Regions from separate parts of the Homo sapiens genome. Here all the other regions are reported to be linked to region 2. Evidence: microRNA targets listed by miRTarBase, many of them from high-throughput screens and not tested one by one. Region 2 holds a microRNA gene; each other region holds the end of a gene's coding sequence.

What was found. Region 2 holds the annotated microRNA hsa-miR-450a-1-3p (AUUGGGAACAUUUUGCAUGUAU, at 2,630-2,651, opposite strand). A microRNA usually pairs through its seed, bases 2 to 8, with sites in the 3' UTR of a target mRNA and lowers its output. Matches are read on the target gene's strand: a 7mer-m8 pairs with bases 2 to 8, a 7mer-A1 pairs with bases 2 to 7 and ends in A, and an 8mer does both.
Region 1: miRTarBase lists SETD5 as a target of hsa-miR-450a-1-3p. Seed matches in the 3' UTR shown: 7mer-m8 at 3,764-3,770.
Region 3: the mRNA of SERTAD1 is a reported target of hsa-miR-450a-1-3p. Seed matches in the 3' UTR shown: 7mer-A1 at 1,455-1,461.

The regions. Positions count from the first base shown.
Region 1 is chr3:9,475,495-9,480,593 of GRCh38, reverse strand. SETD5 (SET domain containing 5) reads right to left here. Exons shown (of 23, transcript NM_001080517.3): 23 at 2,440-5,099. The coding sequence ends at 4,503. Among named protein-coding and RNA genes, the nearest start is that of LHFPL4, 76 kb to the left of the region's middle.
Region 2 is chrX:134,537,729-134,542,871 of GRCh38, forward strand. It overlaps MIR450A1 (microRNA 450a-1), which reads right to left and starts at 2,703; the gene lies at 2,613-2,703. It overlaps MIR450B (microRNA 450b), which reads right to left and starts at 2,534; the gene lies at 2,457-2,534. MIR450A2 (microRNA 450a-2) reads right to left here and starts at 2,879; the gene lies at 2,780-2,879. MIR542 (microRNA 542) reads right to left here and starts at 3,709; the gene lies at 3,613-3,709.
Region 3 is chr19:40,418,266-40,423,364 of GRCh38, reverse strand. It overlaps SERTAD1 (SERTA domain containing 1), which reads left to right. Exons shown (of 2, transcript NM_013376.4): 2 at 1-1,776. The coding sequence ends at 529. Among named protein-coding and RNA genes, the nearest start is that of SERTAD1, 5.2 kb to the left of the region's middle. RefSeq lists a silencer at 2,007-2,096 and enhancers at 2,387-2,506, 2,172-2,672.

The DNA of each region.
Region 1 (5,099 bases), not on the chromosome of region 2:
CACCATATCAAAAGCAAAGTCCCTAGCAACACAGTAAGTACTTGAAAAGAATAGCAAATAGGTTAACTCTGAATGGGCAGTTGACTGTCTTACCTTGATATTCTCAGCACCTCAGATATAGCCTAGCACACAGTAGGTGTTCAGCCAATGGTCATGGAACAGAACCTTCCAATTATGGCAGAAATCAGTTAGTTTTATTCATTATCAGAAGCCCAGTGCTATAGCTGAAACACTGTACTAGGTCTCAATTTCTCATCTTTAACTTCTGGCATTTGGCTTGCTTTCTTCACAGAATTATGAGTCAAAATAAGACACTGTATATGGAAACACTTTCTAAAGATCATGCACACTATTCTCTTCCTAACCCAGGTAGAATCAGGTTGTGGTTGGTGGTAGGTTACCTAGGTATTCCTAGGGCATTTTGGAGGGATCTTCTAATAAAACAAGTGGTTTTGTTATGTTTCCACTTTCTATTTTCTTTTGAGACGGAGTCTCGCTCTGTCGCCCAGGCTGGAGTGTAGTGGCACGATCTCGGCTCACTGCAACCTCTGCCTCCTGGGTTCAAGCGATTCTCCTGCCCCAGCCTCCCAAGGAGCTGGGATTACAGGCACGCACCACCACGCCCGGCTAATTTTTGTATTTTTAGTAGAGACAGGGTTTCACCATGTTGTTCAGGCTGGTCTCAAACTCCTGATCTTGTGATCCGCCTGCCTTGGCCCCCCAAAGTGCTGGGATTACAGGCATGAGCCACCACGCCCAGCCTTCCATTTCTAAACTCCTTCAACTAATAAATAGCATCTTCATCTTTGAATCCCTTATGTGCTTTGCAAACTGCAGTCTACCTTAGTTACTCAGTAAACATTTGTCAAACAAATGTTAGAATACTGCCAATTCAATCCATTGGCAAGTTCTGCTGTGTACTTGCAAAACATATCCTGACTCCAATCACTTCTTATCCCCATCATTACCGTCTTAATAGAAGCCACCACTGCATTGTTGCTTGCCTGAACAACTGCTCTACCTTCCACACCAGTTTCTCAGCTCCTATTCATCTCTTCACCAACAGGATCAAAACAATCAGAGTAATTTTTAAAAATCAACCAAATATAAATTAGACAATGTCACTTCTCTCCTTAAAATCCTGCAATGACTCCTCCACTGTACTTACTGAATGCAGATTATTTAAATTATACCTACAAGGTTCTACATTAGAGACCAGCAAACTACAGCCTGCAAACCAAATCCAACTTGCCACTTGTTTCCTGTAAATAAAGTTTTATTGGAACATAGCCACATACTGTCTATGCCTGCTTTTGCACTGCAATGGAAGAGCTGAATAGTTGTTTTTTTTTTTTTTTTTTTTTTTTTTTTTGAGACAGAGTCTCGCTCCATCACCCAGGCTGGAGTGCAGTGGAGTGACCTTGGTTCACTATAACCTCCTCCTCCCAGGTTCAAGAGATTCTCCTGCCTCAGCCTCCTGAGTAGCTGGGATTACAGGTGCGCACCACCACACCTGGTTAATTTTTGTATTTTTAGTAGACAGGGTTTTGCCATGTTGGCCAGGCTGGTCTCGAACTTCTGACCTCAAGTGATCTGCTCTCTTGGGCCTCCCAAAGTGCTGGAATTACAGGCATGATTCGCACCCAGCCAAAGGGCTGAATAGTTATGACAGAGACCATACATGGCTTGCAAAGTCTAAATATTTACTATCTGGCCCTTTATAGAAAGAGTTTGCCGACTCCTGCTCTACATGATCTGTCCCCTATCTCCCTCTTACAGGATCTTCTATCCTCTTTCCCAGCCCCATCCATTTATTACATCTTAACCAAGCTTTTTCTACCACAGAGTCTGCAACGTTCAAGAATGAATTTCACTCACATCGTCCCAGGACTGCCTCCTTGTCACTGAAGTCTCAGTTTAAATGTCAACTCCTCAGAGACTTTTCTTGACCAACCAATCTAGAGTGGCTCCTTCAACTGTCTTAGTCACATATCTGCTATGAAACAATTAACATGGCAATGACTATTTAAAATTATATACTAGTTTAGTTCTCTCCTCCACTAGAATGTAAACTCCATGAAAGAAGAGACCTTACTTTGCCCACCCCCAATCAGCATTCTAATCACCATAAGCCCAGCACCAAAAACAATGTCCAGCATTGTTTTTGAATGAAAAAGACCAATAAATAGTTGCTGAATGAATGAGGCCAAGGTCAGGAACACCACTCAAGTTCAAGGCAGTTTTTAATGTTCACTTGCCCTGCTGCAGGTTTGCCTTCACACTGTCCTGACTGCAATCATAAAAAGCGAAGGAAGATCAGACAGTATTCCTGGCCCCATTATCATGGGCAAAACAACTCCACCAAGGGCACATTCTCCTCAGATAAAAATGGCATTAGGAAAACCAGGCAAGGCAGGGCCACAAAATTGGACAAAGAAGTTCTCAACTTTATGATTATTATGGTTAAGAATTTTATTATCAAAATTATTACATCTCTTGTGAAAGTTCAAATGTTACAGCAAGGTGTAAACACTCCACTTGAGAAAGAAGTGATACTTCTTCCCTTCCAAGAGTTCCCCCCACCCCCCCGCCCCTACCCCCCCAAGAGGTCTGGTCTTGACAGCACCCTGCCCACACAGAGTGGCTGGGGTCTCTGCACGTGCCAGGCAGGGTGAGGGCCGCCTGCCCGCTGGCCTCTCCCCTTGGTTAAATAGCCAAGGGGAGAATGCAAACCCCAGCCCAAATGGAGAGACATTTACATACGTTTTATATAATATACAAAGAAACCAGCATCCCAGGCAACATGATTTCCACTCCCAATGCTCTCCCAGACTGATGGGTTTGTGGGGGAAACAACAAAAAGAAAAGTACTCTGCTGAGGTCTCAGCATTTAAAAAAAAAAAAAAAAAAAAAATCTCCCCTCATTTGAGCAAACACCTGATTTCGATTTTGAAAAGTGAAATTTTGTAACAGTCACACACAAAGAGAGAAGACTGTGCATATGATAGTTGTAGGACAGGGTAGAAAAGAAGGGGATGCAAGAGGCTGGGGAAAAAAGGAAAACAAATTAGAGGGAAGGAAGGAGGGAAACTCACAGTATTATCTTGTCCAAAAGAAAAGAAGGTCCACTGCAGCACCAGGGATTACACCTGTCATATATTCACTACCCCTACCATGGTTATAACTGAATACAAAATTAGATAAATAAAAACACGCCAGATATTACAGTAAACAAGTGAAAGAAATAAGCTGGCAACCATATGGAATTTAAAAAGATTGTGTACCCCACCTGGGCTGGCTCCAGGGCTCCTCCAGGGGTGTACAACAGGCACAATGCACTGATGGGGAGAAGCCGGTCTGCTCTCATCTCTCATCCAGAACAGTGTTAGGGGTGTGGGTGGCTTGGTAACTCTTTCACTGGGCCCACTCTCACATAAGCATCCCCCAGAGAAATGTGGGGCAGGCCCACACACAATCACAGTCCTGTCGGTGCCACTCCACAAACCTATCTTCCCACTCTTACCCTGCAGTCACAAGTGCATGCTCCCCAATCATGGAGGCGGTCCTGCTCATGGGATCATCAACTCCTGATTAATTGGGAGTAGAAAAAATAAAATTCGAAGCATTCCCAAACCACTCGGTATCCTTCCTAATGAAATTTATTGCCAAAAGCTGGTAAGTAGCAATGCAATTGGCCTATATCATGTCTCATTCCTCCTTTTCTTGTCTACTTACTTCATGGGTTACTGAGCTGTGAAATAGCTTGGGAAGGGGGAGTAGGATGGTAACAGTTGGAGGCTCAGACAATCTACTCAAATAATCTGCTCCCGAATAATCAAGAGCTGACCATGAGCTTTTCTTCAAAGAGCCAGGCACCCTCCAGTTGGTGCAGGTTCCAAGCTTTACTATCCTTGCCTATTTCTTGGTGATCTTAAGACAAAGATAAACAGTATTCTTGGTGGACACACATTGGCCAGATACCTGCTTTTGGAATGGTTGTCTTAGGATGAACATTTACATACCTACCTTTTTTCTTAAGTGCATAAAACCCTAACAGTACTCAGATGGCTTGGGGCTTTGAGATTGGCTCTTTTAACTTTTTTTCCTTTGAAAACTTTTTTTTTTTTTTTTTTTAAATTTAAAAAGATGTCCTCACTGCACAAGTGACTACGGGCTACAGGCAAGGATGGGAGACGGAGGCTTCAACACAACTCATTGCACTTAGAACCGTTACTAACCGAAACACCATTTGCTTGTCAACAATGTACCCTTGACAGCAGGGAGAAACTTCTTTATAGTCTCTGCTTCAGACAAGATTTACAGCTTTCTCCAAGGCCAGAGGCCAATTGTGACCACAAGTCTTGTTTCTTGTCCACCAGACCCAATCCTCTGGCACCTTGTACCCCCCGTTCCTCAGCAATATGCTCGGCCTAGGTTCCAGAGGCAGCTGGAAGGAAGCAGCTATGGGCTCATTCAGTTCTGTTTGCCCAAATCCAGAAGCCCTAGGAAAGTCCCGTCTGAGTCTTGACTCCTGACCCTTGCAGTGGCTGGAGTCGGTACTGGTGCACACCCCCACTCCCACGGTGTGGGTAGTGCTGTGAATTGGAAACCGCAGATACCCTGGAGGCCTGGTAGACAGCTGACTGCCCAGCACTGGGCAGACTGATAGTCCGTAAGTCTGATGGCAATGACGACCTAGAGTTCTGAGGAAAGGAGGTGGAACTCAGAGTTCCTGTGCTGGACTGAGAAACTGAATCTGAGGTTGGCGAGTCTGAGGGTCCCTGCAGGGTAGGGCTAGCAGCACTAGAAGGGCAGCTCCTCCTTGGAAGATTGCTGCCAGTGCTGTTTCCAGAATGTGGCTGGCTGCTAAAATACCCTGGTGTCCCCGTAAATGGGGCCAACGAGTCTGTGGACACAGGGTGGGCGGGGCTGGAATAGGACGTGGAAGAGAGGGATGATTCTGAAGAACCGTGAGAGGGGGGGTTTCCAGGTCTCAGTGCAGTAGTTCGATAACTGTATCCTGGAGACTGTGTAGGATGTCCTCTGAAGGGGGAGGAACTCTGCTGAAGGAGGCTTTGTGATTCTGTCCGAGGACTATC
Region 2 (5,143 bases):
TGAACACTACCATGCCCAGCCCCACCCACTTTTGCAGGTGCTCATCAAGTCCCATATCCTTCATAGAGTCTTTCCAAGTCACTCCCTGTGTCCTTTAGACCCAGTATATTACAATGGAAAAAGCCCTGAAGCTCAAGGTTCAAGTTGTAACATTGCCCAATTCTCTGCACGACCTCTCTGCAACTTATTTTCTCTCTCTGCAACTTGGTTTTCTCTTCTGTAAAATGAGGGGCTGGACTTGTGTAAAATGAGGGTTTGTACCCTGTTAACAAAGGGAAGCCCTCAGCACCTTCTGCACCTGCCCCTCCTCAACCCCTCTTGGCATACTTCCAACTCTGAGAAGCAATCTCTGTACTGGCCAAATTCTAGGACATTTCACTGGTTCAGAAATTCAGCCGGGCGCAGGGGCTCACGCCTGTAATCCCAATACTTTGGGAGGCTGAGGTGGGAGTATCGCTTGAGCCCAGGAGTTCAAGACTAGCCTGGGCGATATAGTGAGACCCTGTCTCTCTGTCTTTCTCTATATATACATATATAGAAAGAAATTCAGGGGCTGAAGATTTTTTTTTCACTGGTCAACGAAAGGGGCTTAAGATCAATGCTCAATTTGGAATGATTTCTCTCTCTCTCTCTTTCTCAGCCCTAGAGGCGAGACCTCCCATTTAGAAAGGGGTCCCTCCCACACTCTGCCCCTATTCCATACATTTTGTCCAGCAGGGACTAGAGTGAGCCCTAGGGGAAAGGAGGCCACTTAGATGGTTGCTTAGCAAAGCAGATTCTCTGTGTGGTCTGACCTGGCTCAGACGAAGGTCAAAGCCTCAGCTGATCCCTGCTCTGTACCCAGTGGCAGACAAAGTATTCGTGTGTTCAAGGCCTCTCTGGCTCAGTATCACCTTAACCTCCGCTTCTCCCCTACCCGCTCCTCTATCCACAAGTAACTAGCACAGAGGTAGGCACCCAGTAAATATGCTCTGATTGACAGAGTGTGGCAGATAAAAATGCTTATGCTCCTTAAAGAGGAGTACACACATTTAAGCATGGGGACCAGTTTGGTTGTATGATTGTATGTTCTTAAGCAGAACAAGGGCAGGGCATCAGAAAATTGGAGGAATGGTCTCCTGTATCTTTGTAAATGGATATGTGTATATATATTTGCCTCACAACTCAGCTTCTCCTTTAAGGAATATGATGGATCTATTTTGAAAGTAATGTCGGCCGGGCACGGTGGCTCACGCCTGTAATCCCAGCACTTTGGGAGGCCAAGGTGGGCAGATCACGAGATCAGGAGATCGAGACCATCCTGGCTAACACAGTGAAACCCGTCTCTACTAAAAATACAAAAAAATTAGCCAGGCAAGGTGGCGGGCACCTGTAATCCCAGCTACTTGGGAGGCTGAGGCAGGAGAATCGCTTGAACCTGGGAGGCAGAGCTTGCAGTGAGCTGAGATCGCACCATTGCACTCCAGCCAGGGTGACAGAGCCAGCCAGACTCCGTCTCAAAAAAAAAAAAAAAAAAAAGAAAGTAATGTCTAGTCATATGGACTTGCTAGAGTGCCAAATATGTCCTTGGTGGGGGAACAGTTTCCCAAAATGCTACTAAAAAGATAGGAAGGAACTTAGATCCTCCTGTAATGTGTCTCTGTCCAAATCAGTGCCACTGAGGAACGCTAAAACCTTGGTAGGTGCCCTTCAGACCATGGGCCAGGTACGTGACCAAATGGTTCCATCTCTTACCAGAACAAGGATCGCCTAAATTGAGGTGTCACATGTGTTCTGCAACACCAGAGTTACTATGGAGCTCAGCTGAATTTGCGGGAAAATGCAGGGGGGGCTTTACCCGCATCTGCAAGAAGTTGGCTGAGTGGAAATAACCTAAATAAGGTGTTTTCCTGACTTGGGCATATCTCAAACTGGCCAATGCGTCTTGAGGCCCTGGGCGAGCATCCAAGTACCACCTTCCTGAATTGCTACTAGAGGAAAAGGAGCCTGTTTCAGCTTTCTATACTTCTTTAAATGTTACTTTGATTAGACATAGATAGCAGTTTGTTTACTAATATTACTATTATAACTCTGTCGTGGTTATATTTTTTAGTTATACTTTCTCTTTTCTTTGCCAAGAGCAAATGAAAACACATTTGCACTGCAGATCCAACTGAAGTTGTACAAAGGTTTCCCAGATATGTTTGAAAAAGTATTCTAGGCCCACTGCTGGCCAAATAGGAAGTCTTCCCCCACCCTTATGTCAGGGGTTCATGCTTTAAAAAAAATACAAACTCTTTTTAAAAATAAAATGTTTTATTATTGCTATAAAAGCAATGCATTTTATTGTTTATGCAAATATTACTTGGAAAATACATAAAAGTATAAAGAGAAAAACAAACATTACCTATAATTTTATACTATAATACTGTTACAAGTTTTGGTATATTTCTTCCTAGACTTTTCTCCATATGTTGATACAAAACTATGGATGCAAAATGATCCCAATACACTTATATTACATATTCAGGAACATATTGCAAAAATAATTCTGCATCTTACATTTATCACAGAAGTAAACCACAGATAGCCGCTGTTAGATTTTTTGCTTATTCCCTCCATCTTTTCATCTGTATATTGATACAAAACTATACATGCAAAATGTTCCCAATATATTTATAGTGCATATTAGGAACACATCGCAAAAACAGTTTAGTATCGTTTTTGATTGCCTATAGTGACACAAGTCAGCGATAACCACCTCTAGACTTTTGGTATACTTCCTGATAGCCTCTTTTCCCCATATTATTGATACAAAACTATGAATGCAAAATGTCCCCAATACATTTATATTACATATTAGGAACACATCGCAAAAATAGTTTAGCATCTTTCTTTGGTCACCTTTATACCACAACTCAGAGATAATCACAATAAAGTTTTTATATGTTTCCTCCTAGCCTTTTATCTGTATGTTGATACAAAACTATTCATACAGAATGCTCCCTATATACCTATATTGCAGAGATGGGAAAATATTTTGCACCTTTTTTCAATCGCTAAATGTTTTATCAGGAGCACATTCTCATGACATGAAAATTACTTTCAGAAACATTATTTTACATGAAAGCATCCTATTCTATTGTACTAGCTAGCTACGCTGTATTTTATTTGTCTAATCCTTTGTTGTTGGTCATTCAGGATGTTCCTAACTTCCATCCTTAAAATATTGAAATGAGCATCTTTATGCATTTTTTTTAACTGGGGCTTTCTGTTCATGTAGTTTTTATGGTTTTTCTTGACCACTTGTGTGGACTCAACATACTAAAAATGACCCTGTGTCTGTAATGCTTATAGCAAAGTGTTTTCCAGTTGTTTGCTTGAGCATAAATTCTTTATTTTAGCATTCTAGCACAAGTATAAAATCATATACCTTATGTAAGTTTCAATTCATTCAACAAACATTTAAAGCAATAAAGACACAAATAAAGGCATTCCCATTACACTCCTATGAAAACACAACTCATCCTCCCACCCCATCCCATAGCAACCCCTTTCTTCTTTGCTTAGGGCCCACTTTCCTCCTGATCTTTTCATTGATTCGTCTTGTAATACTTACCACATGTTTTGCTATGAAGATGAGTGGCTCCCAGACCTTTCAGTTATCAATCTGTCACAAGTGCACACTGGTATCTCGTGACATGATGATCCCCGAGATGTCTGAGATCTGTGCATCCTTGACCGATCCCAAATTTCTGTATCACCCATGACCCCTAAAGACTTTTTAGAGAATTATATTTTGACAACATAACAAGAAAACGTGGCATCTCACACACACACACACACACACACACACACACACACACACACACACACAAAACCATGAAAAAGTAGAGAAAGAAGAAACTTCAGCTCTAATCCCACCACCCTTAAGTAACAAGTATGTCTGTTTTGCAGGTTTCCTCCAGGTTCTGCTCCTATTTTTCAATCATGGTGTCCATGTGATTTTGTGGCCCTGATTTTTTTTAAGTTGATATCATAAGCATTTTCCAGGTTTCTGTATATTCTCTATCATTATTATTTGCAATGGCTGAAAAAGGTTCCATTGAGTGAGTGACTAGATTAAGTCAACCCCTATAGCTTGACACTTCATTTGTTTCCTTAAGATAATTTGATTGAATCTACAGAAAATAACAAACATGGGACAGAGGTTTAAAATGAATTTAAATCATGCTTTTTTGGTTTGTGCAGATTGACTTGTACACGGCTGGGTAACTTATAGTCACTATTTAGTAATCCTGGGGCCAATCTTGGGCCTCACCCAGGAAGTGTCCAATGTATAGGCCAAAGCTCATCATAAGACTAGCCAGTTTCACCGGGAATTTTTGTAACCAAACACATTCACCTCCATTTCCTGCTCTGGTCACTACTGCATAGTCGGTTCTGATGAACAGGTAATGACATAAGGAACACAGTATGAGGCCTGGAGGAAGAGCCCCCAGAGAGTAGCCTCAGACAAATCCTTAACCTCCAGAGGCCCCAGTTTTCTTGTCTGTAATTATTTTTTGGACTGCCTTAACTCTGTTTGTCTTTCAAGGTTGTCACAAATTAAAAAAAGAAAAAAAAGAAAAAACAAAGTATTTGGAAAAGTATGTAAACACACGATACAAAGGCAAGATGTTGGGATACTGATGATTCTGTGGCCACGCCTTTAGAAGGTCTGGTCTTAGGGTAATAGTCTTGTCTGGATGGCAGGTGGGGGTGGACATGGGGGAACAGGTGAGGGAGCTGCCTTGGGAGACTCAGGCTTCAAAGCAACCCAGACTCTCACTGGCAGGTTGCTGCAGTGTTCTGAGCTCCCTGACTCCAGCAGTGGAGCCAAGGCCATGTTTCCAAACACCCACCAACTGCTCAGATTATAGAGCTCAGTAGTGGAAGGGGGAGTGCTCAAAGGCCCAAGCAACCACAGGAAGTGGAAGTCTTTCGGGGCTCCTCCCTCTTGGCTCAATTTACTATCCCCACAGGGGTTTTAAGCCTGGCTGAACTTGCCAAAGAGATCAGCTGTGGAGCTGGGGAGGAGGGAAAAGGTGGCAGATAGGTGAAATATTATGAAAGAGCTAGCCGATCCTTGTTTATTCACTGAGGAGTAACTAATGGGTGGGCC
Region 3 (5,099 bases), not on the chromosome of region 2:
GCCGGACCTGCGGCACCTGGTGCTGGTCGTGAACACTCTGCGGCGCATCCAGGCGTCCATGGCACCCGCGGCTGCCCTGCCACCTGTGCCTAGCCCACCTGCAGCCCCCAGTGTGGCTGACAACTTACTGGCAAGCTCGGACGCTGCCCTTTCAGCCTCCATGGCCAGCCTCCTGGAGGACCTCAGCCACATTGAGGGCCTGAGTCAGGCTCCCCAACCCTTGGCAGACGAGGGGCCACCAGGCCGTAGCATCGGGGGAGCAGCGCCCAGCCTGGGTGCCTTGGACCTGCTGGGCCCAGCCACTGGCTGTCTACTGGACGATGGGCTTGAGGGCCTGTTTGAGGATATTGACACCTCTATGTATGACAATGAACTTTGGGCACCAGCCTCTGAGGGCCTCAAACCAGGCCCTGAGGATGGGCCGGGCAAGGAGGAAGCTCCGGAGCTGGACGAGGCCGAATTGGACTACCTCATGGATGTGCTGGTGGGCACACAGGCACTGGAGCGACCGCCGGGGCCAGGGCGCTGAGCCCTCGTGCTGGAATGGTTGTCTGGTATCTGAACTGAGCCTGCTGGCTGGACCAACTGTCCTCGAAAAGACACAGCTGGCTTCCCTAGTACAGAGAACAGGGCTTGGGCCACTTTGGAGAGACAGAATCTAGTCCTGGGCAACTTCACATCCGTCCTCCTGTCTCAGGGCTGGCAGGGGGAGCCTGGAATTACCCCCTAGTGATGGAATGACAGGGTCTGGTGGGGACTGAATTCCCTGGCCCTGGGGTCATAGCTTGGGCTGTTCCTTCTCTGATACGGGAAGAGACCCCAATCAGATTTTTCAAATTAAAGCCAGTCCTGGGAAATCTCAAATCCGTGTGCTGCTTTGTCTCTGGGCAAATGTGAAGGCGAGATAAAAACATCAAACATTTTATTGGGCGTAGGCTGTGTACGAGGCACAGTTTCTAAGCACGTCACTGTGTTAACTCATTTAATCCTATAACAGCCCTACAAGATCGGTAGTATTATCATCCCTATTTTACAGGTGAGAAAACCAAGGTTCCAAGATTATCACTTGAGGTGGGTTTTAAATTATGAACTTTTTTTTTTTTTTTTTTGAGATAGGGTCTCGCTCTGTCACCCAGGTTGAAGTACAGTGGTCTGATCATGGCTCACTACAGCCTCAAACTCCTGGGCTCAAGCGATCCTCCTACCAGGCCACTTTTTTTTTTTCTTTCTTTTTTTTTTAAGACAGATTCTTACTCTGTCGCCCAGGCTGGAGTGCAGTGGCGTGACTTCGGCTCACTGCAACCTCCACCTCCCAGGTTCAAACGATTCTCCTGCCTCGGCCTCCCAATTAGCTGGGACCGACTAATTTTTTATATTTTTTGTAGAGACAGGGTTTCACCGTGTTAGCCAGGATGGTCTTCATCTTCTGACCTCGTGATCTGCCTGCCTCAGCCTCCCAAAGTGCTGGGATTACAGGCGTGAGCCACTGTGCCTGGCCTTTTTTTTTTTTTCTTAAATTTTATTTCTTTTCTTTGCTAGCAGGAAGTCAAGGCAACTTTTTAAAAATGAAAGCAAGTCCTCGCCTGGAGTCTACCTGTATTTATTGAGGAGCGAAGGGGAGATTGCTTTCAGAATGGTCCCGAAATAAAAACACAAAACCTGGACCCTGGACAGATCCTCTCCAAGGAGCCCTGAGAGTCGGCTCTCCAGGAAAATGGGGGAGGAAAGGGGGACAACAGCCCATTTTTAAAAATAAAATTCACTCCTGGTCTTAAATCTCTGGGCAAAGGATAGGGACGCTTGGAGCTGTGTCTGAAATAAAGCCACTAGGCTTGGTAGCTGGACTGCAGAGAGGGAGCTCAGGGCAGGCAGCTGTGCCTTCCTTCTAGAAGAAACCCAGACCCGGACGAGCTGGGGCCACCTGCCCGTGTGCTGGGCCTGGCTGGAGCGCCGGGTGTCAGCGGCCGCCCCCGCGGTCCAGCCGCATTCCAGGCCTGGCTGGGAGGGGCCGCACACTCAGCGGCCTGGCACGGGACCCAGGCTGCGTCCTTCCTGACGGCCGCAGGGACAGGGCGGAGCCTGAGGGGGGGTGCACGGAGGGGAGGGAGTGTCACCGTGAAAACTGCGGGTGCGCATGGAGAGAGGCGCAGGGGGCTGGACGGTGACCCGAGGGGCCAGCGGGGCCTTGAGTGAGGGAAACGCCGCCATCGTGGGGTCCCAGAGCCTCGCTTCTGGCCAGAAGCCTCGGGGAGGCAGAGGCAGGAGTGGAGCTGGGCCAGATGGGGAGCCTGGGTCGGCCCCAGGGGCCGGGAAGGGGCGGGCAGAGTGGCGCTTCCTGGAGGAGCAGAGGAAGTTGTGCCCATTTCTGGAAGTGGATGAGGCGGGCCGCGGAAGCGGGTGAAAATGGCCTGCGGGGAGCTGTCGTCCAGGCTGAGGGTCTTCCAGGCGCCTGACTCCAACCCCGAGTGACTCCAGCCCCGGGCAAATGGGACTCGGACTGCTTTGCCGCAGACTCAAAACTTGGGCGCCTGGGCTGAGCTCAGCACCGCCCCCTGGTGCCCAGTCGGGCTCTGCGGTGCCGCCGTCTTGGGTTCCCCGGACATCTGTCCAGTGGTCGAGGGATCATGAACGCCCTCTGTTTACAACACTCTGCGGGCCTGTTTCTTTCTTTTCTTTTTCTTTTTTTTTTTTTTTTAGAGACGGGGTCTCGCTTTGTCGCCCAGGCTGGAGAGTGCAGTGGCGCGATCATAGCTCACTATAGCCTCGAATTCCTGGGCTTCAGCAATCCTCCCGCGTCAGCCTCCCAATTAGCTGGGGTTACAGGTGCACGCCACCACGCCCAACTGATTTTATTTTTATTCTTATTTTTATTTATTTATTTATTTATTATTTTTTGAGATGGATTCTCGCTCTGTCGCCCAGGCTGGAGTGCAATGGTGCAATCTCGGCTCACTGCAGCCCCTGCCTCCTGGGTTCAAGCAATTCTGCCTCAGCCTCCCGAGTAGCTGGGATTACAGGCGCCTGCCACCATGCCCGGCTAATTTTTTGTATTTTTAGTAGAGACAGAGTTTCACCATGTTCGCCAGGCTAGTCTTGAACTCCTGATATCAAGTGATCCGCCCTGCCTCAGCCTCCCAAAGTGCTGGGATTACAGGCGTGAGCCACCATGCCCGGCCGATTTTTTAAATTTTTTGTAGAGACAGTGTTGCCCTATGTTGTCCAGGCTGGTCTCGAACCCCCAGGCTCAAGCAATCCTTCCACCTCAGCCTCCCAAAGTGCTGGGATTCCCGTGGGCCTGTTTCTTATTCTTTCCTTTCCCCGCTTTTTCAAAGAGATTGGGTCTCACTGTGTTGTCCAGGCTGGAGAGCACTGTCTGTACAGAGGAGTGATCATAGTGCTGTACAGCCTTGAACTCCTAGGCTCAAAGGATCCTCTGGCTTCAGCCCTCAGAGTGGCTGGGACTATAGGCACAAACCACTGTGCCCAGCTAAGGACCTGTTTCTGATGTCTCCGAGGCCCAATATGGGGTGAGCTGATCCTTCCGTCTGCCCCTGTGCCTGCTTTGCCACTGATGGCCCCTCTCCCCAGAGCCTCTAGGTACAGTTGCATAGGTTGTGCACTGCATATAGGCTCCGTATGTAAGGGGCTGCCACTGGTGTTCCAGGTACCCTGCATTTACATATTTATTACAAGTTTCCCAGCAGATGGAGGTCAAGTACCTCCAGGAAGGGGCATGTCTTTTACACAAAAGCACCATATGGGCTACATCAGCCCTGGTCCCGTCTGCCCGGTGCCCTCAGGTTTATGAATGGCTCATGTGTGAGGACCTGCCCCTCTCTCCCCATGTGTCACCCCCAGATGGGTTGTGCAGGCTCCCTGGCTCTGGTGTGCTGCTCCACCCTCAGGCTCAACCCCAGGAGGCCACACCACCTTGGCCAGCAGACTCCAGGGCCCACACCATTCCTAGCTGAGCCGCCAGCCCTGGCACAACTGCCACCTTTCACAGAGCCTCTGTGTATGCTCGCCATGACGCCCCCTAGGCCAGCTTTCCTCCATGGCATTCACAGACCACCCCCAAAACACACACACACACACACACACACACACACACTCTCTCTCTCTCTCTCACACCTGGAAGAGCTGTGACCAGCTATCTTGTCTCTTTTTCCTCCCTCCCTTCTTCCTGTCCTTCATTCAGCAAAAATTTATGAGCACACACCTACTGTGTGCCTATCCCTATGTAAAGGGTAAATCTGACCACATCTCTCCCCTGCCCCTGGGCCCTTATTACCCCACTTCTCTGGGGTCTGAATTCTGTACTTTCCAAGGCTCACCTTCTACCTCTGTCCCTATTCATTAGACACTTATTGAGTGGCCGGGCATGGTGGTTCACGCCTGTAATCCCAGCATTTTGGGAGGCCGAGGCAGGTGGATCACAAGGTCAAGAGATTGAGACCATCCTGGCCAACATGGTGAAACCCCATTTCTACTAAAAATACAAAAATTATCTGGGCAAGGTGGCGGGCCTGTAATCCCAGCTACTCAGGAGGCTGAGGCAGGAGAATCACTTGAACCCGGGAGGCGGAGGTTGCAGTGAGCCGAGATTGTGCTGCTGCACTCCAGCCTGGCGACAGAGCGAGACTCCATCTCAAAAAAACCAAACCAAACAAAATTAAAAAACACTTATTGAGCACCTATGGTATGCAGTCCCGGCACACTTTAGAAATCTAACAGAGATATTATTGAAGCAGTAAGCTGGAGAGAAGAGACTGTTCCTGAAAGCCAGACTGCCTGGGTTTGAACCCCAGCTTTGGCCAGATGCGACGGCTCACGCCTGTAGTCCCAGCTACTCAGGAGGTTGAGGTGAGAAGATCACTTGAGGCCAGGAGTTTGAGGCTGCAATGAGCCATGATTGCACCACTGCACTCCAGCCTGGGTGACAGAACAAGACCCTGTCAGAAAGAAAGAAGGAAGGACGGAAGGAAGGAAGGCAGGAGGGAAGGAAGGAGGGAGGGAAGGAAGGGAGAGAGAGGAAGGAAGGAAGAAAGAAAGGAAAGAGAGAGAAGAAAAAAGGAAGGAAGGGAAAGAAAGAAAGGAAG